Homo sapiens: one gene and its partners. The protein of the gene in region 3 interacts with the protein of the main gene of each other region in a pairwise test. Each region holds a gene or a part of one and is shown on either strand. Other genes may lie near its edges.

The links.
Region 1: the proteins of KCNJ6 (region 3) and TMEM120B interact in binary tests that used the Homo sapiens proteins (3 or more experiments, as listed by UniProt).
Region 2: the proteins of KCNJ6 (region 3) and ZDHHC24 interact in binary tests that used the Homo sapiens proteins (3 or more experiments, as listed by UniProt).
Region 4: the proteins of KCNJ6 (region 3) and TM6SF2 interact in binary tests that used the Homo sapiens proteins (3 or more experiments, as listed by UniProt).

Annotation. Positions count from the first base shown.
Region 1 is NC_000012.12:121,743,736-121,750,757, reverse strand, and holds part of TMEM120B (transmembrane protein 120B), read right to left. Parts: coding exon 7,011-7,022; intron 2,433-7,010; coding exon 2,316-2,432; intron 379-2,315; coding exon 319-378; intron 1-318. UniProt on the Homo sapiens protein: Necessary for efficient adipogenesis. Does not show ion channel activity.
Region 2 is NC_000011.10:66,543,027-66,549,890, reverse strand, and holds the start of ZDHHC24 (probable palmitoyltransferase ZDHHC24), read left to right. Parts: upstream 1-3,842; 5' UTR 3,843-3,887; coding exon 3,888-4,168; intron 4,169-5,909; coding exon 5,910-6,187; intron 6,188-6,758; coding exon of another isoform or gene 6,759-6,864. Other genes in the region: ACTN3 (alpha-actinin-3), read right to left, coding at 3,105-3,380. UniProt on the Homo sapiens protein: Probable palmitoyltransferase that could catalyze the addition of palmitate onto various protein substrates.
Region 3 is NC_000021.9:37,913,441-37,920,848, forward strand, and holds the start of KCNJ6 (G protein-activated inward rectifier potassium channel 2), read right to left. Parts: upstream 3,018-7,408; 5' UTR 2,444-3,017; intron 1-2,443. UniProt on the Homo sapiens protein: Inward rectifier potassium channels are characterized by a greater tendency to allow potassium to flow into the cell rather than out of it.
Region 4 is NC_000019.10:19,270,289-19,277,674, reverse strand, and holds the start of TM6SF2 (transmembrane 6 superfamily member 2), read left to right. Parts: upstream 1-4,373; 5' UTR 4,374-4,459; coding exon 4,460-4,554; intron 4,555-6,549; coding exon 6,550-6,653; intron 6,654-7,232; coding exon 7,233-7,330; intron 7,331-7,386. Other genes in the region: SUGP1 (SURP and G-patch domain-containing protein 1), read left to right, coding at 599-728, 1,001-1,027. UniProt on the Homo sapiens protein: Regulator of liver fat metabolism influencing triglyceride secretion and hepatic lipid droplet content. May function as sterol isomerase.

The DNA of each region.
Region 1 (7,022 bases), on a different chromosome or scaffold from region 3:
AGTGTGGGGTGTGAGTATGGGGTGTGGGTGTAGGGTGTGGGTGGGGTGTTGGCATGGGGTGTGGGTTTTGAGTGTGTGGTGTGGGGTGTGGGTGTGGGTGTGGGTGTGGGTTCGCAGTGTGGGGTGTGGGTGTGGTGTTGGTGTTGGTGTTGGTGTGGGTGGGGTGTTGGTGTGGAGTGTGGGTGTGGGTTTGAGGTGTGGGGTGTTGGTGTGGGTGTGGATGTGGGGTGTGGGTTCTCAGTGTGGGGTTTGGGGTGTGGGTGTGGGTGTGGGGGCGGTGTGAGGTGTGGGTCTGGGTGGTGGGTGGGGGACACTTACTTGGCCTGGTTGCTGAGGAGGGTCACGTTCACATTGCCGAGGACCAGGTTCAAGTAGAGCCTGGAAGGAAACACCTGTGAGGGGCATGATCCTTAGCAGGTGGGTGCGAATCAACAACATTCAAACTCAACACACTTAATGAGCACATCCCAAGCACTGATGTTAGAAGATAGGGGGCCTAAGCTCAGCGGGCAAATGGGCCCCCACATCGAGTGAGAATGACAACTAACCAAAGGACATTAACCTGTGACAGGACAGTGTGAGGAGTCGATTTCTCCTCCATGCTACCCTAGAGACCGTATTTCTAAGCCTGCCTTGCAGCCAGATGTGAGCAGGTGACTAAGCATAGCCAATGAGGTGGAGGCAAAGGTACAACCTCTAGGTCAATTTTTAAAGAATTTTCTTTATTTTTCATTATTATTATTATTATCATTGTTATTATTTTTAGAGACAGGGTCTCACTCTGTTGCCCAGGCTAGAGTGCAATGGTATGATCATAGCTCACTGCAGTGTTTTTTGTTTTTTTTTTTTTTTGAGACAGAGTCTCGGTCTGTCACCCAGACTGGACTGCAGTGGCACGATCAGGACTCGCTATAACCTCCACCTCCTGGGTTCAAGCAATTCTGCTGCCTCAGCCTCCCAAGTAGCTGGGATTACAGGCACGTGCCACCAGGCCAGCTAATTTTTGTATTTTTAGTAGGTTTAGGGGTTTCACCATGTTGGCCAGGCTGGTCTTGAACTCCTAACCTTAAGTGATCCACCTGCCTCCGTCTCCCAAAGTGCTGGGATTACAGGCATGAGCCACTGTGCCCAGCGTCACTGCAGTCTTGAACCTCTAGGCTCAAGTAGTCCTCCCACCTCAGTCGCCAAAGTAGCTGGGATTATGGGTACACACCAGCACACCAATTTTGTTAAAGTTTTGTAGAGATGTGGTCTCACAATGTTGTCCAGGCTGGTCTTGAATTCCTGGGCTCAAGTGATCCTCCCACCTCGGCCTCCCGAAGTGCTGGGATGACAGGCACAAGCCACCGCGCCCGGCCTTGAGTTGGGTTTTCTATCGTTTGCAATCCAAAGATTCCCAACTGAGGTTAAGAGGCACAGAGGCCTAGGGACAGAGGGGCAGGAAGGCAGACACGCATGACACTGTAAGAGGGTCACGAATGCTAGGCTGCTGCTCATTCTGCAGAAAATGATCATCACTTAACTCATGGGGTCTATTCGAACACAGTCAAAAAGGAGAAGCTCGGAGGAATGGGTTAAAATATAACAGGGCTAGCCAGCTCCCTCCCACCCGCTACAGGCCTGAAAGGAGCCCCTCCTCCTAATGCACGGCTCTGACTCAGCGCGAGGCTGATCCGGAAAACAGGGTCAGGGTGAACTGACTGTGCTCAGCAGCGTTAAGTCAGGTCATGATGATATGAGGCTGTAAGCAGCTCTCTCTCTCCAGAACAAGGTGGCAATGACATCACTTAAGGGAGGGAACGGGGACTTCTCTGAAGGGGGAAAATACAAAGAACGTGGGCTTTGGAGTCAGAATGTCTGCTGTTCACATCCTGGTGTGGCCAAACATTCGCTGATGTCTCTGAATCTTGTAAAAATGGGCATCTCTTGGTCTGACGCACAGATTGTTGAGGATAAACCAGGTGACATCACAGGAGGTCCCGGCACAGCTCTGAGCGTGCAGGAGGCACGCAATGCATGTTTGTTCTCCTGGGAGAGGACAGTTTCCCTCTTAACCCCAGGTGTCAGCAGGCATGCAGTGAGTGCTGGTTCCTTGCAACGGACCTCCCAGGAATGCTGCTGTCACACGGTGTGGCTAAGGTCCCCTCCTGGGCTCATGGAGGAATGTGTAAGGAAGGCTCCTTATCTCTCCTGCCCTTGTTTCCCTCTTTCCCCTTCAATCTGAGCACCAGCAGGAAGGCGAGAGTTATATGGACCAGCTGTGCTAGGCCTGGGCATGGGCCTGTGCTAGGGGTGGGGAGGTTGCCAGCTCCTACCCGTTCTTCTTGGGCAGGTAGGCCTCCATGTCGAAGAAGACGTCCTGCCGCTCCTTGATGTTCGCTGCCATCTGCTGAACGAGCTCCGCCTCCTCCCGACTGGCATGGCGTTTGCACCTGCGGACAGAGATGCAGGCACAGGGGAAGGGGCGTCACTCAGAGGGAGGAGGGCTATGGACTCCCCGGGCCCCAGCCTCCCACCTTCTACCCCAGTGCCTCCTACCTTCTACCCCAGCCTCCCACCTTCTACCCCAGCCTCCCACCTTCTACCCCAGTGCCTCCCACCTTCTACCCCAGCCTCCCACCTTCTACCCCAGCCTCCCACCTTCTACCCCAGCCTCCCACCTTCTACCCCAGTGCCTCCCACCTTCTACCCCAGCCTCCCACCTTCTACCCCAGTGCCTCCCACCTTCTACCCCAGCCTCCCACCTTCTACCCCAGTGCCTCCCACCTTCTACCCCAGCCTCCCACCTTCTACCCCAGTGCCTCCCACCTTCTACCCCAGCCTCCCACCTTCTACCCCAGTGCCTCCCACCTTCTACCCCAGCCTCCCACCTTCTACCCCAGTGCCTCCCACCTTCTACCCCAGCCTCCCGCCTTCTACCCCAGCCTCCCGCCTTCTACCCCAGCCTCCCGCCTTCTACCCCAGCCTCCCGCCTTCTACCCCAGCCTCCCGCCTTCTACCCCAGCCTCCCGCCTTCTACCCCAGCCTCCCGCCTTCTACCCCAGCCTCCCGCCTTCTACCCCAGCCTCCCGCCTTCTACCCCAGCCTCCCGCCTTCTACCCCAGCCTCCCGCCTTCTACCCCAGCCTCCCGCCTTCTACCCCAGCCTCCCGCCTTCTACCCCAGCCTCCCGCCTTCTACCCCAGTGCCTCCCGCCTTCTACCCCAGCCTCCCGCCTTCTACCCCAGCCTCCCGCCTTCTACCCCAGCCTCCCGCCTTCTACCCCAGCCTCCCGCCTTCTACCCCAGCCTCCCGCCTTCTACCCCAGCCTCCCGCCTTCTACCCCAGCCTCCCGCCTTCTACCCCAGCCTCCCGCCTTCTACCCCAGCCTCCCGCCTTCTACCCCAGCCTCCCGCCTTCTACCCCAGCCTCCCGCCTTTTACCCCAGCCTCCCGCCTTCTACCCCAGTGCCTCCCGCCTTCTACCCCAGCCTCCCGCCTTCTACCCCAGCCTCCCACCTTCTACCCCAGTGCCTCTCGCAACCGCAGTTCCCCATCTCAACTCTCGGGGTTGGAGGAGTGATGCTGCCTCCCAGGTAGTCTTGTGACTTTCAGAAAGTCCTTAAACCTCTCTGCCTTATTTTCCATACCTGAAAAGCCGGGATAACCTCAAGCCTACCTCACAGACAATAGCCTGGTGAGGATTAAATGAGTAAGTACAGCATAGAGCATCTAGAATAATACTTGATAGTATGAGCTCAAGGGATAATTACTGACAATACTATTTTTCTTCTCATTTTTCTTTTCTTTTCTTTTTTTTTTTGAGACAGAGTCTTGCTCTGTCGCCCAGGCTGGAGTGCAGTGGCGCCATCTCGGCTCGCTGCAAGCTCCGCCTCCTGGGTTCACGCCATTCTCCTGCCTCAGCCTCCCAAGTAGCTGGGATTACAGGTGCCTGCCACCACGCCCAGCTAATTTTTTTTTTGTATTTTTAGAAGAGATGGGGTTTCACCATGTTAGCCAGGATGGTCTCGATCTCCTGACCTCATGATCTGCCTGCCTCGGCCTCCCAAAGTGTTGGGATTACCGGCGTGAGCCACCACGCCCGGCCTTCTTCTCATTTTTCTAAAGAAATAGCTAGCAGGCATGATGTTATAGTCCCAGCACATACGCCTATGATCCCAGCACTTTGGGAGGCCAGGGCAGGAGGATCACTTGAGGCCATGAGTTTGAGACCAGCCTGACTAACATAGCAAGACCCCGTCTCTATAAAAAATTAATTAAAGAAAACAACCAAGGCCGGGTGCAGTGGCTCAAGCCTGTAATCCCAATACGTTGGGAGGCTGAGGTGGGCCGATCACCTGAGGTTGGGAGTTCAAGACCAGCATGACCAATATGGAGAAACCCCGTCTCTACTAAAAATACAAAATTAGCTGGGCATGGTGGTGCATGCCTGTAATCCCAGCTACTCGGGAGGCTGAGGCAGGAGAATCGCTTGAACCCGGGAGGCAGAGGTTGCAGTGAGCCAAGATCGCACCATTGCACTCCAGCCTGGGCAACAAGAGCGAAACTCTGTCTCAAAAAAAAAAAAAAGTGGGGGGGCGGTTTAAGAAAACAACCAGGGGCTGGGTGTGGTGGCTCATGCCTGTAATCCCAGCACTTTGGGAAACTGAAGTGGGCAGATCACCTGAAGTCAGGAGTTCGAGACCAGCCTGGCCAAAATGGCAAAACCCTGTCTCTACTGAAAATATAAAAATCAGCTGGGTGTGGTGGCAGGCCCCTATAATCCCAGCTACTTGGGAGGCTGAGGCAGGAGAATCACTTGAACCCGGGAGGCAGAGGTTCAGTGAGCCAAGATAGCACCACTGCATTCCAGCCTGGGTGACAGAGCAAAACTCCATCTCAAAAACAACAACAACAATAACAAAAAACAACAACCAAGCATGGTGGTACATGCATGTAGTCCTAGTATTCATGAGGCTAAGGTGGGAGGATCGCTTGAGCCCAGGAGATCAAGGCTGTGGTGAGCCGTGATTGCGCCACTGCACTCCAGCCTGGGTGACAGAGCAAGACACTATCTCAAAAAAAGTAAGGCCAGGCATGGTGGCTCACACCTGTAATCTCAGCACTTTGGGAGGCCGAGGCAGGATGATCACTTAAGGTCAGGAATTTGAGACCAGCCTGGCCAACATGGTGAAACCCTGTCTCTAGTAAAAGTACAAAAATTAGCTGGGCGTGGTGGCGGGCACCTGTAATCCCAGCTACTCGGGAGGCTGAGACAGGAAGAATTGCTTGAACCCGGGAGGCAGAGGTTGCAGTGAGCCGAGATTGCACCACTGCACCCCAGCCTGGGCAACAGAGCGAGACTTCATCTCTGAATGAATGAATGAATGAATGAAAATAATTTTAAAAAATAGAAATAAAGGAATAACCTACAGATGACCAAGAGACAGACAAAAAGGCACCTGAAAGCATAAGCAGTCGACCAATCATGGTCTGTTATTCTTTGGTAACACGGAACTCTCAAAACCAGAAAACAAGTCAGCAGACACATCTCAGAATGACAGGGGTCCTTGGTCTAAGACCCTAACTCACGGGTCAACCTTCTAACCCAGCACTTCTCAACTGAGGACAGCTGGCAATGCCTGGAGAGATCTTGGTGGACACACCTGGGGCAGGAGTGCTACTGGCATCAGTGGGCAGAGGCCAGGGATGCTACTCACTATCCCACAGTGCACTGCACGGCCCCCACAAAGACCCATCAATAGTGCTGGGGTTCGCCATGTGCCCATCTGTGAAGCAATCACTGAGAATCTGAAGAAACTCTAGACTCTGAGCCCTGCCATTACCAAGATGTGTTTTTCCAAAGCCACATCTGGTGACGTGTTTGCACAGGGCCATCCACACTCTCTACCCCTTAGTTGCGGGCCTCCATTTCCAAAATGGCCAGCCACACTGAGAGCTATAATCAGGACCTTCCTCCAAAATTGTCCACAAGGAAAGAGTTGACCAGGAGTCCCAGATTCTAAAATGGAGGCCCAGCTAAGTGACCTGGGACAAGTCACTTGGAGCCTCAGTTTCCCTGCCTGACAATGGGGTCACGGCATCCACTGGGCCCCTTCACATACCAGGCAGGAGGGGACTTCCCAGACCTGGAGACCATGAGTGTCAGGAAATGAACACGATCCAGGCCTTGGGAACTGAACTAAGCTATGAGCTCAAGCACATCTCCACCAGGGATGGCAGCCTAGTGGCCACTACACCAGCAACCCCAGTGGGGAGGGCACCCCACACCCACAAAAGGACGCTGCCTGCTTACTTGTCCGGCAGGGCACCTTCCTATAACAGCACCCAACTTTCACCCGGGAAACTACTTATCTTCTTCTCCCATCACCCATGTGGCCATCCCTCCACCGCCCAGGGCCACAGACTTAGCACACGGCATGGCGCTGCCCAAGCAGCTTCTCAGTGATTGGTTCACAAATGGGCATTCAACCAATCCCAGCCAATGAGGACTGAACCCAGAATGTCGGCTGAAGTACTGGGAACGAGAAACTCTCGGCCAGGCACAGTGGCTCATGCCTGTAATCACAGCTACTCAGGAGGCTGAGGCAGGAGAATCGCTTGAACCCAGGAGACAGAGGTTGCAGTGAGCCGAAATCATGCCATGGCACTCCAGCCTGGGCAACAGAGTGAAAGACTCCATTTCAAGAAAAAAAAAAAAAAAAAAAGAGAGACACTCTCCTTCAGCCAGGGTGGCACAGCCGGCAGGAAGCAAGGCTGGAGAATATAAGCCTGGCACTGCTGGTGAAGGGGACAGTCACCCTGAGAGTGACACCAATCCAGAGGAAGGCAGAATTTAGAGGGAAAAATACATGCCCCAAAACACCCTTTGACTCCTGGATCCAGTGATGCCTGAAGCAACTCCCAGTCCTGTCTTTTTCCACTGAGATTTCCATTCTCTGCTTCAGCCTGTTTTGAGTTGGACTTCTGTCCCTCAGAACCAGGGCAGCCCCCGGGCTACAGCTGCACCTACCTCTGGAGTGTA
Region 2 (6,864 bases), on a different chromosome or scaffold from region 3:
CAACTTGATGGGAACCTAAGCACTGAATAGGGCAGTTAGATTTCCCACAGTTCCCTCCAACCCTGGAGTCTAAGATGCTTTGAGTTTGGAAAGGGCAGGGGGATAGGCAGGTCTGGGTGGTGCCAAACATGACTCTTTTTTTTTTTTTTTTTTTTTTTGGAGACAGAGTTTCGCGCTTGTTGCCCAGACTGGAGTGCAATGGTGCGATCTCTACTCACTGCAACCTCTGCCTCCCTGGTTCAAGCGATTCTCCTGCCTCAGCCTCCCAAGTAGCTGGGATTACAGGCATGCGTCGCCACGCCCTGCTAATTTTGTATTTTTAGTAGAGATGGGGTTTCTCCATATTGGTCAGGCTGATCTTGAATTTACAACCTCAGGTGATCCGCCCCCCTCCGTCTCCCAAAGTGCTGGGATTACAGGCATGAGCCACCACTCCCAGCCCAAACAAGACTCTTAATGAGATGTGGTTCCTGCCCTAAGGGAGCTCACAGTCCATCCAAGAGTCATTTTGGTCTGAGAAGCGCTGTAAGAGGTTGCCGAGGAATTTATGGGAGGGACGCTGCGGATCAGGGTCCCCTCTTGGGGAAGGCGAGTATTTGATCAGAGCTGTGATGGGCAGGAATTATTCAGGAAGGGAAGGGCAGGCAAGGGCATTTCAGGCAGGGGCTGCCATGCAGGCAAGTGCTCGGTGGCTGTGAGAAACACTTGCTACATTTGTCAGACTACAAGGATCTGGGCACTGCTGGAATGGAGCTGGGATTGTTGGGGTATAAGTGGTGAGAGGCAGGCCGGAGGGGCAGCAGGAGCCAGGTCATGTGTGATCTTGGGTGCTAAGCTGGGGAGTTAAAATTTGATCCGGAGGGCAACAGAGAGTCAGGGAAGCCTCAGGCAGGAGGGAGGTGGGCAGAACTGTCCATGCTGGTTGCAGAGTGGAGATGAATGGCTTGGCGTGGCAGAAGGCAGAAGTGAGGACGCAGTCACTGGGATCAGGGCAAGAGAGGAAGGGTGTCAGTGTGGGGGACAAGGCAGGATTGGATGGATGAGACAGAAATGTTGGAATGTAAGCTCCCATGGCAGGGGCTTTATTTTGTCTGCTGCCGAATTCCAGCACCTGAAACAGCGCTGGCACATGGTAAGACATCAGGTGGGAGGAGGCAGCGTGCTGCTCCAAGACTGTGTGAAGGAAGCCCTTGGATGGAGGAGTCACTGGGGAGAAAGGGAGCATAGAGCAACAGGGAGGGGTCAGGGCTAAAGCTGAGCACAAGGATGTTTATTACCACCTTGCAATAAACAACGCTGGACAAGAAAGAAATGAGCCAAATGTCCAACTACAAGGGATGCTGATTGATTTTCAGATCCTCTATGCTGTGCCAGCCATTGAATGAGTAGATGATGAGATGGTGACTGCAAGTTGGGATGAACAGATGTTCCTGATAATTTGTTAGGTGACAAAGGCAAGTTACAGACTGGCACGTGTCATATGGGGGGCACGCAGACCTGGATCTCGGAGAGGCCCGGGTGGGTGGGGGTAGGGATAGGAGATGTTGCAGAACAGGTGGCAGCTGGAGCCAAGGACAGGGATGACACCACCGGGAAATTGCCAAACCTGGGACTGCAGCCGTGCTTGGAGACAGGTGCAGGGGGAGCCTAAGGGGAGGCCTGTCACCCGGGGCACCCCAGCCGAGTCAGCGGAGCCTCTCGGCCCTTGGGGTCATCTCCTGTCATCTAACCCAGCAGAAGTACTCTGATTCTAAATTCTGGGACTCTCAGGTCATTTAAATTCCACTGAGTACCCCAGTACCCTGCCCTCTCCTGGAGTCATACAGTGTTGGCACACGCTGAGCAGGGTCCAATGGCCTCATAGTGCCCTCCTGGTTACCCCTGGCCTGCCACTCTCCAAAGTATTCTCCCTCTGGCCTGGATCATTTTCCCTTTGGGAACCCAGGTGTCCTGCCCCCTCTACTTGGGAAAGTCTGGGAGTGAAAATAGCTCAGGGAGGGAGGGGCCCTGAGTGCCCAACGGGCTGGGCCTGGGTAGCAGCTGCCCCTGTGCCCCTCTTTGGCGCCCCCGAGGTGCTGCCTCAGCACTAAGTGTCCATCTGGCTGGAGAGTCAGGTTACAGCGTAAGGGGACCCAGGTCTCCCCTCCTCCCCGACCTATGGCCTTTTCAGCAGACTCAGGGCCCCATGCCTGGGGTATCTTGGGAAAGAATGGGGGTAGGGAAAAGGGTAAAGATCCTCAGGTTGCGGGGGTCCTGATGTCTGACAGTCTGTGATGTGGGGCCTGTCTGTGCTCTTTCTGGGCTTCAGTTTCTTCAATTGTTAAATGAGATACAGCGACTATGGACCCCACCCTGGAGACGAGGTGGGGTGGGGTCTGAGAGGACCCTTCTCACTACCCCCACACTCCCAAGTCCACTAGTTGCCTGACTGCAAGCCTTCAGGGTGGGGTCTGGGAATATTTAACTAGAAGAAGATTCTTCTTTCTGAACCCCCCCTAACTTGGATCTCCTGGGGTTTGCCCAGCCTGTTTTCAGCAGCAGAAGTGGGGCAGTGGGCCCAGGGGAATGAACCCTGGTGGGGGTGGGGAGCCCAGAAACTCTCTTGTCATTTTAAACCCCTCTTGAGGGCTCCCAGCCCTCTCCTCCAGCCCTGGGGACAGCAGGCAGCTGATGGGCAGAGCCTGGGCTGGGGATTAGCACTCTAGGTTAAAGACAAGCTCTGCCCCTGCACTGCTGAGATGCCCAGGACAAACAGCCCGGCCTCTCAGGCCTCGGTTTTGCTGTCAGGAAATGGGCGAGCACTCACTTTCCGCTGCTGCTTCTCCCAGGCCGGGTCCAGCAGCAGGTCGCGGTCCCAGTCCTCCTCCTGTTCCATGTACTCGCCGCCCCCGCCGCCGCCCGCAAAGCGCCCCTCCCCGGCCCCCAGACCCTCGGGCTGCATAACCATCATCATCTCGATCGGGCTCCTGGCTTCGCTCCGCTCGGCACGCTCTCGGACACCCGGGCCCCATTAAGTAGGGCCCAGCCCAGCCCCAGATCGAATTCGCACTAAATATGGGGGAGGAGGGAGGGGCCGGATGGGGGTGAAGGAGCTCGGGTTGGACCTGGCAAGGGGTTGTCCTGAAGCCGGGAACTGCGGGACTCGGGGGCGCCGGGGTGGATCTCGCGGCGGAGATCCTGGGTTTGCATTCCTGCTCCGCTGCTGGGGCGCTGTGTGACCTTGAGAAATCCACGGGACCTCTCTGAGTCTGTTTACTCCTCTCCACAATAGAAAGGCCGATAATAATAGTGGCCGCGGGCCGCTCTAGAGGCTGCCCTCTGGAGCTCCTCGTGAGCCTCTTCCAGCACCTCGCTGGTGGGACACAGAGCCCTATCCCCATTTCACAGTCAGGAACACAGAGGCGCCGAGCTGTTTTGCATGTTTTCTGGGGTGATGGAGACACCCGGGCATGGGGAACGGCTCTGAGCCAGCTGGATGGGCTGCGGCAGGGCTATTAATATCGGGGCGGCTGTGGGGAGTAGGGGAGAATGTGCTGAGCCGGGAAACCCCGACACCACCCCGGCTGCAACTCAATCCCCCGGGCACTCCTGGCCCCCGCGCCAGCGGGCGGGGCTCCGACGGGATGGGAGGAGCCTCCAGGGTGGGCGGGTCAATCACTCCGCGGCGTTATCCGGGCTCCAGCGCCGCGGGATTCCGAGCGCCTCCACTGCTGGTCCGTTGGCCAGATCAACTCGCCGCGTGGGCCGGCCGTTCCCTGAGAGTCTGAGCGCTCGCCGCACCCCCTTCCGAGCTTCTATTGGCCGTAGCAGACGTCCGTCTGCCGCTATCTCCGCCCCAATACGGAAGCGGCCTAGTCCTCCGGCTCCGACAGCTGGGTGTCCAGGCCATGGGGCAGCCCTGGGCGGCTGGGAGCACGGACGGGGCGCCCGCGCAGCTGCCTCTCGTGCTCACCGCGCTGTGGGCCGCGGCCGTGGGCCTGGAGCTGGCTTACGTGCTGGTGCTCGGTCCCGGGCCGCCGCCGCTGGGACCCCTGGCCCGGGCCTTGCAGCTGGCGCTGGCCGCCTTCCAGCTGCTCAACCTGCTGGGCAACGTGGGGCTCTTCCTGCGCTCGGATCCCAGCATCCGTGGCGTGATGCTGGCCGGCCGCGGTCTGGGCCAGGGCTGGGCGTGAGTGGGGTGCGGGATCGGGCGGGGAGAAGTGGGAGCCTTGGACAGGGGGGAGGGGCCCCAAGACCTGAGATGTTAGAACCGGGTTACATTAGGATCCAGGTTGTTAGAATCAGACATTTTTTTAGAACCTGGGATGGAAGAGCTAGAATTGAGTGTTATTTATTTACTCGCAAATACTTATTGGGAGCCTACTAGGTGCAAGGTTTTGTTACAGGGACGAAGGGTACAATAGAACAAATTCCTGATTTGAGGGGGGTGCAGATGAGAAACTAGAGGAATAATAAGCAAATCATATAGAATGCTAGAAGGTGATAGTAGTTTGGAAACAAGAAGTAGAGCAGGGTAAAGGGGTTGCAAGTTTCAATATTAAATAGGTGGTTAGGCCGGGTGCGTTGGCTCACATCTGTAATCCCAGCACTTTGGGAGGCCGAGGCCGGCGGATCACTTAAGGTCAGAAGTTTACCAGCCTAGCCAACGTGGTGAAACCCCGTCTCTACTAAAAATATAAAAAAATTAGTCGGGCATGGCGGCACGTGCCTGTAATCTCAGCTACTGGGGAGGCTGAGGCAAGAGAATTGTTTGAACCTGGGAGGCGGAGGTTGCAGTGAGCCGAGATCGAGCCACTGCACTCCAGCCTGGGTGACAGAGCAAGACTCCCTCCGTCTCAAATAAATAAATACATAAATAAACAGGTGGTAAATTCTCATCACAAAAATATGAGTGTTTGAGGTAATGGCTATCCTAATTAGCTTGATTTATTCCAAGCTGTACTGATAAATCATAACATCACTTGGTATCCCATAAGTATATACAACTGGAATTTGTCAATTTATAATTAGAAAAAAAAATTACACCAGGTACAGGCTCTACACACACATTTTATGCCAGGCAGAGGCTTTTGCTGAGACTGAGGCTGTAGTGTGCTATGATCACACCTGTGAACAACCACTACACTCCAGCCTGGGTAATGTAGCGAGACTCTGTCCCTAAAAATTTTTTTTAATTAATTTTTAAAATAATATACATAAATGTGTGGTCAAGGTAGACCTCATAGAGAAGGAGGCATTTGAGCAAAAAACTTGGAGGGCGTGGGGGGCGGTTAGCCATGTGGGAATCTGAGGGAAAGGTGTTCCAGGCAGAGGTAACAAGTGGTGCAAAGGCTCTGAGGCAGTTGTGTACCCAGCATGTATGTTCCCAGAACAGCAAGAAGGCCAGTGTGGCTGGAGTGCAGTAAGAGAGGGGAAGAGATGTCACAGATAGAAGGATGTTGTAGGACACTGAAGGCTTTGCTTTTTACTAGAAATAAATTGGAGAACCACAGGAGGGTTTTAAGCAGAGGAGGGTCAGTTTGGTTGCTGGGGTGAGACCGTACGAGGTGGGGCAAAGGTGGAATCGGAGACCAGTCAAGAGGCTATTGCAGTAATCCAGAGAGTTCCTAGTGACCTGGACAAAGGGGTGACCGTGGAGGAAGGGAGGGATTTGCTGCTGGATGTCAGTGGCTTGAGAGAGGTCTCAGGACTGGGGATGTTAGGGCTGGAAGAGACCTCAGACCTGTAGTGCTAGAACTAGAAGGGCCTGGGACATCTTGTTTAGCCTGCATTTACTTGTAAAGAAATTGAGGCTTAGCCAGGGCAAATGGCTGTTGCCACTTCCGCAGGATGGGCTCTGGGGCAGCCCTGTGCACAATATGGGGCATCTGAGCTGCTGGGGGAACTGACGCTGTGGTTCCTTCCTGCAGTTACTGCTACCAATGCCAAAGCCAGGTGCCGCCACGCAGCGGACACTGCTCTGCCTGCCGCGTCTGCATCCTGCGTCGGGACCACCACTGCCGCCTGCTGGGCCGCTGCGTGGGCTTCGGCAACTACCGGCCCTTCCTGTGCCTGCTGCTTCATGCCGCCGGCGTCCTGCTCCACGTCTCTGTGCTGCTGGGCCCTGCACTGTCGGCCCTGCTGCGAGCCCACACGCCCCTCCACATGGCTGCCCTCCTCCTGCTTCCCTGGCTCATGTTGCTCACAGGTGGGGAGCCTGGGAGGCCTCTGCACAGAGGCAGGGGCCCTGGTATTGGGCTGGGGAGTACAGCCCATTCTGGTGGGAGACGGGCTTTCTGGCCTGGGGGACCCAGCCCCAGTGTCAGTGATGGCCAGTAAGGGCAGCTTGGTATTCACCCGGGGGTGCAGTATGGAAACTGGTGTGTTGAGACAAGTGCAGCGTTCTGGCTGGAGAATTGGGAGATTCCTGGAGTTGTTGAGAGAGGAGAAAGACTCGTGGGAGTCTCTGCATGGCGGGATGTGGAAGTGCATTCTAGGAGCATTTCTAAGTGAGAGAAGCAATAGGAACAAAGGCTTGGAGAGTGGGCAGGGAATTGTGAGAATTAAGGCCAGATTGGTAGGGGAGGCCTGGCTGGTGGGGTCCTGAGAACTGGTGTGAGGAGATGGCTCCTATTTGACTGGACAGTGGGGAGCCAGTGAAAGTGACAGGCAGGAGAAGGCCCAGTTATGGGAAGCTGGGGAGGGCAGACTTGGATCAGCAGGCTGCCTGAGATGCCATGTTCTAGACGACACATATGTTCCTCTTCCCCCATCTACAGATAGAAGCCTCGCTGGTCCTTTTTACTCTTTGTTCTCTACCCCCAGAATGCTTTGGCCTTTCTCGCCCCCATTCCTTCCTCCTGACCTTTCCATGGTTCCCTCTGT
Region 3 (7,408 bases):
CTCACCAGTGTTGTTTTGATTCCTTCCAGTTCTAGACCGAGAGGAAACTATATCTCCACCCTCTTCAGTCCTAGGACCCTTAGAAAGAATTTGGCTGGGCCGGATACGGTGGCTCACGCCTGTAATCCCAGCACTCTGGGAGGCTGAGGCAGGCGGATCACAACGTCATGAGTTCGAGACCAGCCTGACCAACATGGTGAAACCCCGTCTCTACTAAAAATACAAAAATTAGCCAGGTGTTGTGGTGTGCGCCTGTAATCCCAGCTACTCAGGAGGCTGAGGTAGGAGAATCGCTTGAAACCGGGACGCAGAGGTTGCAGTGAGCCGAGATCGAGCCACTGCACTCTAGCCTGGGTGACACAGCGAGACTCCGTCTAAAAAAGAAAGAAAGAAATAACAAACTTGGTTGGCTGGCCTCTCGCTGACCAGGGTGCTTCCACAGCTCCCTTCTGCCATCTATGCCCAACAAAAAGTTAAAGAGAAGAGCGTGAGAGGGCAAGGGATGCATGCTTTTGAAAGCCAAAGGGACTCAGCTGAAACTAGCAACCCTCGTCAGAGGCGGATCGGGGTGTGTGTGTGTGTGTGTGTGTGTGTGTGTGTGTGTGTGTGTCTGTGCGCGCGCGCGTCCTTTTTCTCCCCCTGAGGACAGAATCCTGTCTCCACTCTCAGTTCAGCTCAGGTCTTTCCCTGTCCCAGTGTTCTTGATTCTGAATAGGTCCTCTGATGCACCGCCATGCATAAAATGGATGATTTGCAAGCTTCTTTGCCTCACGTAATTCCGTGGGTAATTTGATATCCAGATTCTGCACGAGCCAAAGACTCATTTATTTATAGAAAGTGATTGACCTCCAGCGACCAAAGGAGTGGGTACTGCTTGCTGGGGGCTGCAGACAGGTGAGGCTTCACCCTCGGCGCCTGGGCTCTGGCCTTGGTGCTGAATCCGGAACCCGCTGAGGAACCACCACCTCGGCGGCCCCCAGGCAACTTTCGGGAGGTTTCAGGGGCACCCGGCCAGCTCTGGGCGCCCTCTCGAGCGTCGCCGTCAGGGAGTTGGGCACAACCGATGCCCTGGGACCCGCCACAGGGCACGCGGCTGGCGTATTCCTTTGCCTGGAGCCGGGAAAGTTTTGTCCAATTTTTTTCCCCTATAACTGGAGCTGCGGTCTCCCCTCCCACCTGGGTCGCCATGGAGACTCGAGCTCTTTTTCTTTCTCCAGGCAAAATGGGCGAAGCTCAGTTAGCTCAGCCCTGACTGTAGCAAGCCCTTTTTTCTCCCTAAGCAGTTCCTGGGCATCACCCTTTTCCGTTTCTTTTTTTCAGCAAAAGAAAGGCAGGCAGGGAACAGGGCTAGCAGGATGTGGCATTGCTCCCTGTACCGTAGGGCTCCCCGGGACCGACAGACTTTGGATAACAGCAGTTGGGAAACACTCTAAACATATAATACATCTCCAACTCCCAAACACTGGAGTTGTGGGGTTTTTTTTTTTTTCTCTTCCTTTTTTTGGGGGTTGGAGGCGGAATTCTTTGGAAAATTCTGGTATTTTGTTTCTCCACTAACCTCACCCTCTGTGGCTGTTTCTATTAAGATATATTTTCCCCCTGACAATCTCTCCATATTGCACCTAGTACAACAGATGTACCTGTGGATCCACTGGGCTTTTATTGGGTTTTGGGAATACTGATGTTATTTCACTTAAAAACTAATCCAAGCTTAATGTTTTGATGAAAATGAAAATATATCCACAGGGAAGCAAATATCCACAGCCACCCAGTCCTCTAAATGCCACACACATCTCATTTTATCTAAAGTGTTTTTTCTTCCCTTCCAATTACAAAATAATTCAGTTTACTCCTAGGAAGATCTTCCTATTCACTGTTTTTAGTCATGCTAGCACATCTTCGGTTTTAAGGATAGAGAACAGTTAGGAGTTACAGTATTCTGTTTCCCATTCTCCGCATGTTTCTCCCCAACCCTCACTTTTCCTCCCTTTCGTGTTGTCTCCTCTCCTCTCCATGCAAAGCAGAACAAGAAGACTGCCTTCCACAAAGACAATAGGCTTTTCCCAACTGTAAATGACTACATCACAAGCCGCACCTGTCAGTTAATCAGTGCATTTAAGTCTTTGCCAGCGGATGTTGAAATGATGTCTGCAATAACTGACTGGGTTTCTGCGAGCCCAGGGATGCAGACCCCTCCTTCCCCCGCCCCCCGTGCGAGTTTCAGTCGCTAATGAAAACCGTATGAAACAGATTCCCCTTCTGTTATGTAACCGGCTTCTCCCTCGCCTTTCGGCTGACTTGGGCACAATGTTTCTCATGAGAGTGGAGATGCCTGCGGCGACGGCGGAGCTGGGGAAGGGGACGCGGGGACCCGAGAGCACGGAACGCCTCGCCCAGGTGGACGCCAGCTCCTCGCCTGCGAGCAGCTCAGCGCACCGCTTACCTGGCTGCGGACGGGGTGGCTTCACTCAATCATGATCTCCTCTCTTGAAACGGAGCAAGACTGAACAATTCACTACACGACGGATGGCGAGGGAAGGAAATGCAAAAAAGAAAAGGAAAAGAAAAAAACTGGAATCAGATGGTCAAATTTCACATCAGCACCGAGAGGCTGTTAGGAGACTCCATTCTGCTCGCGGCTGCTCCGGCTCCAGGTCCGGCTTCCCGGCGTCCGCGGGTCTCCACCCCTCCGCCCGCCCAGCCTCTCCAGCCAGGTGCGGCCGTCTCCGGACTGGCTCCCTCTGGCCGAGCGCGGAGAGCAGGGCTGGGCGCTGGGGCCAAGGGAGGGGCGGAGGGGCGCGCGTTTGGGCAGGGACGGGGGAGGGAGACTGGGTGGAATGAAGTGGGGAAAGATAAGAGTGGCAGAAGAAAAAAAAAATCCCCGGTTAGGAGAAAAGTGGTGGACCACGCAGAGAGACGTCATGAAATCCGCAGATTCAATGAATGCTACTCAATTCCAGCCGACTGGCTGAGCCCCGCTGGCAGCGCACGAAGCGACGCGGCTCCGAGATAAAAGCGAGTGCAGCGCCGCGTGCTGGGGAAAAAGCCGCACAGCGCCGGCGCGGTCCGGGAGGAAGGGGCGGGGGCGAGCAGGACAGAGCCACAGACCCAGAGACGCCCACCCCGCCGCCCATGCCAGCTAGCGTGTCAGCGCGTCGAGGACCGGGCTTGGTGGGGGCGGGCTGGGCACAAACCAACGTGCATCCCCCGCCACTGGAAACGTGGGTGCTCCATGCTGGGGGAATCTTTTGGGTTTCGGTCCCCGACCCCCCAGTCCCAACCTTTCTCCCAGTGCCACTAAGTAAGTTATTCCCGGAGAAACGCCTGGAAAGCAGGAAAGAGCCGAAGCTCGGGGAGCAGTTTTGTCTGCTGGTTGTAGGGGTTCGGCTTTTAGGGTTTTGTGAGATAAGGAAAAAGAGGCTCTGGGCACTGCCTCCCACCGGGCTGAAATCCGTGAGAGGCAGCCCCGGCGCGGGAGCCGGAGCCTGCACCGCCCAGAGGGGGCGCAGCGAGCGGCCGGGACGGAGGGGAGGGGCCCTATCCCTGAGCTTTGCTTGCACCTGGTGGCGCCCCAGCCTGCTGCCCCATTCAGTCCCTTCTGTCCTGTCCACTGCAACTGGGACCTGGTCCCGGCTGCTGCATCATCACCCCATCCTTATATGATGTCTCTGGGGTCACTGGAGACAAAGAATGGCCTTTTCCAAGAATGACCCAGGCTGCCTTCAAAGTTGAATTTGTCAGGATAAGCCCCTTAGACAAAGGTCTACTCCACTCTTTGAATCTAACTTGCTTTGTGCTGTTATTCCAGGGGCCCCTCATAGTGCTCCCCTCTTGCACCCCCTCTTTTTCTTATGGTCATCAAAAACAATGGTTCTACATTTCCAAAGTCTTCCCATAAATTGCTTCTACCTATGAACAGAACTCTCTTTTATGCTGTCTTTTTCCTAGGGATGAATGGATTGACAAATTGTAAGAGTAGCGAATACCATTGGCTAGTAATTTTATAATGGCCCTTTCAATAACTGGCTATTCTTGTGCTGCTTTATGAAGTGGCTTTCCTTCCACAAGGCACAGAATCTCTACCTCAAAGAAGGTGACCTTATTTTAGAGAGAAGGCTTACGGAAACCTCTTATTTCCAAGATTATTTTATTCTACATACATACATTTTAATTACCTAGCAATTCAGGTCCCCTCAAGAATGCTGTCTGCCCTCTAAAAATGACTGTAATATGGAGAGGTGTTTGTGTCAATTTGCATCCAAAGTCATGTAAAAGTCAACCGTACACACGGCCTGTGAGCTTGTATTTGCTGTTGATTTTCCCTAAGAGGTTGTAATCTGACTTGCTATTACTTCTGAGTCATATATCCCATATACAGAAGATATGAGTATGTGTAATATCTGTAGTATGTGTAATACGTGCTCCACAATGCCTGCTGGATCTAGTGATAGTGTTACAAATAAACAAAGAACAACTGAACCAAATAATCCCTGAGAGACCAGGAATACAAATGCAAGATGCAGGATTTCGGTGGACACAGCCTTAGAACATTAAAAGAACAACCCATGTTGACTATAGTTGTGTAAAGGGCATTCTGTTTAATCTGTGAAGCTGCTATGGGTATGCCTGCTAATTTTGATGATATATACTTTTACCAGTAGAATGATTTCACAAAGTATCTTTCTTACAAGATATTAGACTAAATAAGAAAGTCAAGAGTTGGAAGTAACCTATTTGTCTCCTTCAAATACTTTGAAAACTCCCCTACTTGAAACAGCTGCCGGGGTGATGTGGGCAATAGCACTTTGTGAATGGCATAAGAGCACGTGTTGAATGAGATGGATCCCATTAACACAGCCTGGGATTTGATAAACACCAGAGACAAGAGCAATTGGCTTAACTGAATTCATTCATTTATTCCGTAGAGTTCTGATAAAGTGATCTGCATGGGTGTAACTAAGAGACTGCAGCCACATCTGAAAATCAGGCGAGCTGTGCTTCAGAGCTGCAAATTGTGGCTCCTCTGAGCTCCTGAGAGCCTGGTCTCTCAAACTACATTGTGTTTAGCTTGTCTGAAATCTCACTTATATATCTATTTTATGATTTCAGGTGAAGGCAAGGCCTGGGGGAGAAGATCTTTCAGGGTAAATCAGTGCTCCAAATCTCACAGTGACTTTTATAATTGATTGATTATGTCATACAGATGAGACTGGTTTGTCTCCCACATATAAAGCTGTAATGGAGACTTATTAGCTAGTAAAATTAACAAACTGAATTATCTTGACGGGCTGTCATTTGTTTTGGGTAATCTTGTTTTTCTCTGTCATTGATTGCGGCAATTTATAAACCATTCTATCTTCTTGGCCCATGTGTAGATCTGGCCTTGCCTTAGACAGGCTGACACCAGAACTAAGATGGTTGGGAGTTTTTGGTCTCCACCCTTGGGCCAGTACTTGTTTTAGATTTAAGACCTTAGCTGTTGTGGGTCTAACTATTAAGAGACCTAGTTCTTTTTCAGTTTCACTCCCCTGCCTGCTTTCTCCACAAAAACCCTACCACAGATAAACAATATATTTAAAATGCAGAGATGGGAACATAAATTTTAAAAAATTTATTTTGTCTATAAAAGGACATCTTAAAGAGTATCAAGAGATAAGTGTTAAAATTATTCTATTTTACATTTGTACTTCCAGTGTACTGAATGTGATATAGGAGTTAAGAAGCAATTACTTAGGCAGATAGTAAGGGTATGGGAGTCCTAGGTAAGGCTTTTCTTTTTAATGAAAATCAGCCCCAAATAATTTTCTAAGAGAGCAAGCAGCCTGCAAGCTGGGAGCTTGCACAGGTGAATGCGGGCAGGAACTAAGGACTAAAGATGTTAAATATGGCGGTCCCATCTTCCCGTCTCTGTTAGCCACGTGTACTGTAAACGAGCAGACAAGATGGTGCCAATCAACTGGAAAGTCCATTTGCATAAGAAGATTAGGGTGGGGCAACTAGCCTTCCCAGCACACTATGTAGACATCATACCTGAGTGAACCAACCTGTGAGCCCTCTGTAAATCAGACACCGCCTTCTCCAGCCTGCGTATAAAATCTGCTGCGGTCCTCTACCTTCTCCCTTTTCCACGTGTCTCTTGCTCGTGAGGAGCTGCTCTCCCCTCCTCTCTCCTTTCTTCTATTACACTTTCTGCTCCTTAACCCACTCACCTGTGTCTGTGTGCCGAATTCTTTCTCAGTGCATGACAATGAACCCCAGGGTATATACCACAGACAGCAGTAGCCACTTCAGATGGATTTCATTCATGTCTCTTATTTAGGGAATATCTGTAAACAGCGGTTGGTATTTCTTTGATTGATTATAAATTTGGAGATGTATTAAGAAATACATCTTAATTCTTAAGAAATATTTCTAGGTGTAAAAAGTTAAGAATTTTTGCTAAGGAGGGGGTTTCAGAGGGGTTTTAGCTCTGAGGCATTTTGGGGCTGGTCTTTAGAACTTTAGGATAATTTAGAACAATTATTGAGTTATGCCCTTTTCCCTTGATACACTTTTATCTCCTACGTGTTTTCCTTATTTTTGTTACAGTAGGTAGCTAGTCAGACATGAGCAGGGCAGAAGAGGGCCTTCCCCACCAGGCATGCCAGGAGACCGTCAGGTGATGGTCAGGCAGTTGTTAAACTGTCCGTCTACAATAATAATTGGTCACAGCTGGCACCAGAAAAAGTGGTCTCCCAATAGACAGAAACACCGAAGCTGGTGATCAGCAGCTTCCTGATGACATCTCAGGACTTAGGTGAGTGGGCTCAAGCATGTGGACTAAGGCAAAATGGCACAGTTTAACTGTCATCTAACCTTCTTCTAGGAACACTTGGCTGGTAAGGGAAGAACGCCTCAAGTGAGCATGCATACAACTCCAGTAAACACTGCACATGTGGCCCCTCTCAAGTGCTGGCAGACCATGGCACATGCAAACAGCCCACCCCAAGAGAAGAATCAGGGTAGAAGGCACACAACACCCGGGAAGTATGCCAACGCATAAAACCCGAAGTCAAAGGTCAAACAGTGCACTTGATCTCGCAAGTCGCCCACTTGGCCCTCTTCCAAGTGTACTTTACTTCCTTTTGTTCCTGCTCTAAAACTTTTTAATACACTTTCACTCCTGCTCTAAAACTTGCCTCGGTTTCTCACTCTGCCTTATGCCCCTCAGTCGAATTCTTTCTTCTGAGAAGGCAAGAATTGAGGATCCTGCAGACCACACAGACTTGCCGATACTAACACTTTAAAATGACGTTCACCATTTCTACTAATCTTAAGTCATAAATACTTATGAATGTCCTGAAATCATATATTTTTATTTTAATTTCATGGCTTGATAAATAAGTGCAGTCAGAAGACTATTTGATAG
Region 4 (7,386 bases), on a different chromosome or scaffold from region 3:
GCCTCCCCATTCCCACCCCTTTATGTCATCGCTTTTCCCTTGTGGCAAAATGATCACAGCACCCCACTGCACACCCCTTGTCAGGCACAGGCCTGCAGTGCAGGAGGCCATACGGGCTGGGTCCTCCCCAGTCCCAGGGCCTCCTTCCGTCCCCTCATGAGTATCTCCAGGCCAGATGGGGTGGGTGAGGGTACAGATGGGTCAGGCCTTGTCTGCCTTGTGAAGGGCCTTATTTGAATTCCCCATGAGTGCGAAACCACTCCCAGAGATGGGCAGGAGCTCTCCCAGGTGTGACCCTGGCCCCGAGTGCCCCCTTCAAGGCTGTCCTTGAGTAACCATCCTGCCATCCCAAGAGCTGCGACAACTTGCACTGTGGGCTCCTCCTTCCTGTGTGGGACCCTGGGGCCTAGGCCCCCCCCCCCCGCCCGCCCCGGGGGTCTCCCCTCCTTGACCATTCAGGTTCAAGCTTCTCTCTGTGCAGATATGTCCCAGCCCAGCCCTGCACCCGCGGGAGGTGCTGTTGAGAGCCCAGCTGTGCCCGGCCCCCCGGCCAGAGTTCTGGCCCCAGGTCCCTGCTCACATCCTCTTCTCCCTGTAGGGGCACCACCACAGTGGACGGCGCTGGCTTCGGCATTGACCGGCCGGCGGAGCTCTCCAAGGAGGACGACGAGTATGAGGCGTTCCGCAAGAGGATGATGCTGGCCTACCGCTTCCGGCCCAACCCCCTGGTACGCATGTCCTCCTGGGCTGCCTTTGCTCAGTCGACAGGAGAGGGTGGTGGTAGGAACAGAAGGCTCCCTTCCTTCCTCAGTCCAGCCAGGCTGGGTCTCACCAGCGAGCCCCCTACCACCCACCTGCATTCAAGCCCCCACCCGTCCCCCAAGCCTGCCCTGCCACCTCAAGGGTGCGGGCTCAGCTGCCTCCGGAAGGTTCCAGACAGGAGGAACTGCTGTCTTTAGTGCTAATCCCCTCCTCCTGTTATCTGTTTTGCCTTCCACAGAACAATCCCAGACGGCCTTACTACTGAGTGTTCTGGAAATACATACTTTCTGAATGACCAACCGTCCCTGGACTGTGGAATGTTCCGGCCTGCATTTCTGCCCACCCCTTCCGTTGTCACGAGTGCCGTGCCGTGTAATAAAGTCCCAGTGCTCATCCACCACAGATGCCTGGTCCTGTTGCAGGAAGCCCCTCCTGTTAGCAGCGGGATGCAAGATGCTGTCTCGGGGCTCTCCTTATTGGCCTGTGGAGTCTCCATCCCCGCTCAGCCTGGGTTGCACTGGAGGGGAGGAAGAAAGTTGTTTTCAGCATAGTAAAGCTGGAAGGCCAGGTGCAGTGTCTCACCCCTGTCATCCCAGCACTTTGAGAGGCCAAGGCGGGCGGATCACTGGAGGTCAGGAGTTTAAGACCAGCCTGGCCAACATGGTGAAATCCTGTCTCTACTAAAAATATAAAATTAGCTGGGCATGGTGGTGCACACCTGTCGTCTCAGCTACTCGGGAGGCAGAGGCAGGAGAATGGCTTGAACCTGGGAAGCGGTTGCAGTGAGCCAAGATTGCGCCTTTGCACTCCAGCCTGGGCAAGAGAGCAAGACTCTGTCTCAAATAATAATAATAATAATAAAGCTGGAGACTTGGCCACACCTGGGCTAAAGGAATGTCAGGAACCTCCGAGCCTAGCACTGTGCTGCAGAGGGAGGTTGGGGAGGGGTCTCCAGGCAGGGCCCCACCTTCCCTCAGACCTGTGGGGGCAGGTGGCTTCTGGGCACACCCATGTGCTCTCCTGGCAGGTGGTGCTGGCACGGCCCAGCACACAGGTGTTGGCTGTGGCCCTTCAGGTCCCACCAGTGTGGTAGGCACACGAGTCCCTGGGGCTTGTGTCGTTAGGGGACAGCCGCATGGATGCATGGATGTGCCATGCCAACATGTCAGGCAGCTCCTAGAAGGAAGGGCCTCAGAGCCGGAGGTTTTGAGGCAGGAGGGTAGCCCAGGCCACAGTGTGTGCCAAGACCCCCACATCTGCCCCAGGGCCAGAGCCCCACATTTGTGCCTAAGTCACCCTGGGGATCTTGTTAAGCTGCAGCTGCCGAGTCAGCTGGTTGGGCAGGGCCCTGGGAATTTGCATTTCCATCTGCCCCCACCCCCTCCACACACACCCAGTGGGTGCTGCCCAGCCCCTGCAGGCACCAGGGGCTCCCTATTCACATGCTTGGCATGGAGTCGGGCTCCTGGGCCAGCTTGTGTTCACACAGCCATTCAGCAAACACTAGGTGCCAAGTGTGGGGACCAGGTGGACAAGATCTACTCCAGTCAGCCAGGCTGCTGGGGATGAGGTCTGAGGCTGCTACTGAGAGGAACCAGGGAGCCGTGGTGGGGCGGTCTGCAGAGTGTCTCAGTGGGGTCTGAGACCAGGGAGGTGCCAGATGCAGTGGCAGAGCCAAGGCTGGGGTGATATACCACCCTTTGTTCTTTCCTGACGCTGTGGCTGAGGCAGAGCAAAGAGTAACATTGGTGGGCTTGGCCTGGGTGCCCATGAATGAGGGCTGCCCAGAAGGCAGTGGGCCAGGACCCTGAGCACAGCGGGGTAGTTCTCTGCAGCCAGTGGTTCAGGGAATCCTGGCACTGGGTCCCAGGCATTCAGCCATCCAAGTCACTTCTCAGTTCTCAGCAACCTGGAGGCTCACCAGGCTCAGGGCATGGACTTTACCCCTTGCCAGGGGACGAGGCCTCCAAGTGCTGTGTGCGTGTGCAGGTGCATCCTGTACACGGGACAAGGCCAAGCCCCTAGGCTGAGCTGGGCACAGGCACCCTGGCCTTGTGTGGAGAAGGTGGGGTGGGGGTGGCAGGCAGGGCTGCCTGGAGGAGGGGATGCTGGGGCCCGCTTACAAGAAGGCTCATTTTACAGACAGAAAGCAGGCCTGGGGGGTGTTGACCCTGCTAGAGTTGGGGAAAGTCCAGGGGAACCTGAACTTCACCCATGGGCAGTGGACACCTGGGGAAGGAGGCTGAGTCAGACCTGCGGCCAGAAGACCCTCTTGTGGCCCAGTTCAGGAAGACCTGTGACCCAGTTGGCATCAAGCTAAGGGGCTGCGTGCAGAATGGGGCCTGAGGTAGGGGCAGTGGTTAGAATTTGTGCCAGCTGCAGACTGGGGTCCCGCAGGGCAGGCGTCAGGTGGGCATGGTTCACCTTGCTGTCTGCAGCATCCACAAGTACTCCACATGGGCCAGAGTCTGGTTGGAGGGGGTGACAAAGACAGATGGTCTCCTTATTCTCCCCCCCAATACTGTGGCCCCCTCCCAGCTGTTCAAAACCTCCCACAGCCTCTCACAGCTGTCTCGCTTCTCATCACACCCCAGCAGAACCGACCTCCTTTCCACTGCTCAGTTCCAAGCCTGAGCCACTTTCCTCCCTGCCAGGAACACCGTTCCCAAACTCTTCACCAAACTGGCTCCATCCCGATATTCTAACTTCAGCCCCCACCCGCTAGGACCCCTTCTACCCTCTCCCCGAAATGAAGAACCCTAAACCCGGGACTAGCCTGCAAAGGGACAGCCCCGGAGTCAAAGCCTCACACTTAAAGACCCCTCGCAGTGGCTCACGCCTGTAATCCCAGCTCCTCGGGAGGCTGATGTGGGAGGATCTGTTGAGCCCAGGAGTTTGAAACCAGTCTGGGCAAAAAAGTGAGACCTCTGTCTTTACAAAAAATAACTAGCTGCGCGTGGTGGTGCATACCTGTAGTCCCAACTACTTGGGAGGCTGAGGTAGGAGGATCTCTTGAGGCTGGGAGTTCAAGGAGGAGGGCCACTGCACTCCAGTCTGGGCCACAGAGTGAGACCTCTCAAAAAACAAACAAAAAAACTTCACACCTGCCTGGAAACACGTTTACATTTGTGGCCACCTTATGAAAACTCAAATCTAAGCCCACTGAAAGGCATTTTGCACCCAAGAGCTGGAGGTTGCTCCATCCGTGCGCACAGGGAATGCCGACTTGATCTTTGGGTGGGGATGGGAAACTCTGGGGAATGCAGAGGTTTAGAAGCGCAGAGTCCAGGAGAAAATTTCCTTAGAACGAAGTTGTGGAGGCAGGGGAAAGAGGGGGCACGCCAGGACCTCCAGGGCGCACCCCTTGGCCTAAGAGCAGAAGCATCCCGAGGTGTTGTGTCCCAGCCTTTGACAGTGAGGGAAACTGAGGCTGAGTAGCGGGACGGCCATTGGAGACGAGGGTGTCGATGGTGAGGGGCGAAGGGGCGGGGCAGCTGCCAGGGGGAGGGCCGGGGAGGGGCCTTGGAGGCTCCCTGGGAACACGCAGGGCGGTCACGGCGGCCTGCCCAGGGCGCAGCGGGGTCGACCTTTGTGCGGGGCGGGTCCCTGGCAGCCTCGGCCCGGACTCGCCGCCAACGAGGAGCCGAGCGCCCTGGAGAACGCGTCGGGGCTGAGCCGGGGTCCAGCAGCCGCCGCTATGGACATCCCGCCGCTGGCCGGCAAGATCGCGGCGCTGTCGCTGAGCGCCCTCCCGGTGTCCTACGCGCTCAACCACGTCTCGGCGCTCTCGCAGTGCGTGCGGAGAGGGGCCAGGGCGGCCTTGGGGACAGTGGGGGCGGGCGGGGGCGGGGAGGACTGGAGGTGGGCTGGAGGGAGGATGCGCGGTCCGCGGACCTGGCTTCTGCGAGCCCTGCGCCCCAGCTCAGCTCCGACCCGGCAGGATTGGGGTGGGCCAGAAGAACACCCCCCTCTAACCGGAAGTCCCCTTCCCGCCGGGCTGGAGGCTGGGATGCGGCCGCTCCTGGGATGTTTGTGGCCTGGGAAGAAGGAATGATGAGTCCCCACAAGCCAGAGCTTTGGAGGGTTTCTGGGGTTTTCCCAGGGATGCGCCCTGCCTAGGTTCCAAAGTCACCAAGGGTAAAAGTATTGTCCCAGATAAGGCCCCGGGTACCTGACTCCTGCTCACACACACACACACACACACACACACACACACACACCCTACTCCATTGCCTGTCTCAGGCCTGTGACTTTCCTCTTGTTCAGGGCTGGCTAACCATGTCCCTAGACTCAGTTCCCCCTACTGGTTCCCTTTCCTGGTCCCTGTCTCCTAACCCTAGATCCTAGCCCTGTGGGTCCAGCCACCGGATAGTGGGCATCTGCAAGCCCCTCGTACTTCTAAACCCAGCTCAACCCAAGCCATGGGGTGGAGAGAGTCTTAACCATGAGCCTGGCTCCCTGGGTGGGAATACCCATCTCCATCTCCTGGGATCCTGGGTGAGCCAAGTTCCTCTGGGAGCCTCAGTTCCCTCATCAGTGTAATGGGCACGATCCTAGATCTCATCTCATAGTTACGGTTAAGGATTATAAACTGTGTACAAAGATTTGTCTTGGTCTCATCTGAGTACTATAATGTCATTGTTAGATGGGGTCAGGATGGAAATCTTGGGTTCTGAGGGGATCATGAGAAAATAGGGGCCTGGAGAGTGATGGACAGAGTCTTGAGTGTGACCCTGGACAACTGGACAGTACTCCCATCCTCTCTGGGCCTGGATTTGCCCACCTGGGTTGAGGGCTGCCCAGAGACCTGGCTTCTGTTATCTATGCAACTGGTTGACCTGTCTTATCAGGTTGTGGGTGCAGATCAGGGCAGGGGTAGGGTGGAGTTAATAGAGGCATTTGGACTTTAGCTGGGAGGAGCTGGGAGCGTCAGACAATGAAGTCTACAGAACTGAGCACTCGAGACCCTGTGGCTTGGGAGCTGGGCCTGGCCACAGAGGGGCTTGACGTTGTCGAATGACTGAACAGACTGAGTCAAACACATAACAAATGATGGGATAAATGGTAAAGTCAGAAGGGGCAGGCCAGGCGTGGTGGCTCATGCCTGTAATCCTAGCACTTTGGGAGGCCGAGGTGGGCAAATCACCTGAGGTCAGGAGTTCGAGACCAGCCTGGCCAACATGGTGAAACCCCGTCTCTACTAAAAATACAAAAATTAGCCGGGTGTGGTGGTGGGCACCTGTAATCCCAGCTACTTGGGAGGCTGAGGCAGGATAATCGCCTGAACCCAGAAGGCAGAGGTTGCAGTGAGCCAAGATTGCACCACTGCACTCCAGCCTGGGTGTCAGTGCTCTGTCTCAAAAAGAAAGAGAGAGAGAGAGAGAAAGAAAGAAAAAGAAAAAAAGAAAGAAAGAGAAAAGAAAAGAGAAAAAGAAACAGGCTGATGAATATCCCCTCTGTAGCTAGCCCGAGTTAAACAGTGATCCTTTCTGGGGAGTCAGGGAGCGCTTCATGGAGGAAGAACAATGTGGATGGGCCATGAAGGATGAGTAGGAGTTTGCCAAGTGGAAAAGACTTCTGGAAGCGGTTTCCAGAAGGAAGAAACAGCCTGAGCAAGGGCCTGGCACAGGGTGAGAGCAGTTTCAGGGAACAGCATTGATGGATGAACAGACACTTTAGTCTCTTCCCCTGGGGCTTCCAGGAGTCTGCCCCTTCCCCCACCAGGGAGAGTGGGGCGATGCCTCAGCACTGGGCCTGGCCTCCCTGACTTGGCTTCCCTCTCCACAGCCCCCTGTGGGTGGCATTGATGAGCGCCCTAATCCTGGGTCTGCTTTTCGTGGCGGTCTACAGCTTGTCCCATGGCGAGGTCTCCTATGACCCACTCTATGCTGGTGAGTCAGTGGGAAGCTGTGGGGAAGAAGACTGTCCAGGCAAGGGCCTCCACCCTCAGACTTGGGGGCCATTAAGGGGCCTCCTCCATCAGACTGGGGGCCCTTTAAGAGCTCCCATCAGACTGGAGACCTCAAAGAGATTTGAACACTCCCATTAAACTGGGGAACCTCAAAGAGCCTCCCCCTTCAGAGCTGGGGCTCCTAAGAACAGGGACTGCATCTCCTGCATCAGATTAGAAGCTCCTGAAAAAGAGTATACTGCCTCATCACTTTGAGATCTCCTGAGGGCAGGGACGGTGCCTCTCCCATGAGACTGGGGACTCCCAAAGGCAGGCACTGGGCCTCTGAATCAAACCAGGGACTTCTGAGAGCCAGGCTGTGTCTCCTCCATCAGACATGCAGAATGAGGCAGGACTGTGGTCATGCAACCTTTGGGGTTGGGGCAGGGACTGGGCCTGGAGTCCTTGCCTGGAATAATCTCATCCCTGACCTTAACTTCAAGCCCCGCCCACACTAAGCCCTAGCCCCACCCACACGTGTCCCCTCCCACACCTGACCCGGCCCGCCCACTCACTGCAGTCTTCGCTGTCTTCGCCTTCACCTCGGTTGTGGACCTCATCATCGCTCTTCAGGAAGACAGCTATGTGGTGGGCTTCATGGAGTTCTACACCAAGGAGGTACTTGGGGGACGACCAGGGAGCCCCCTACCGCACTGCCCGTCTGAGTCTCCCAC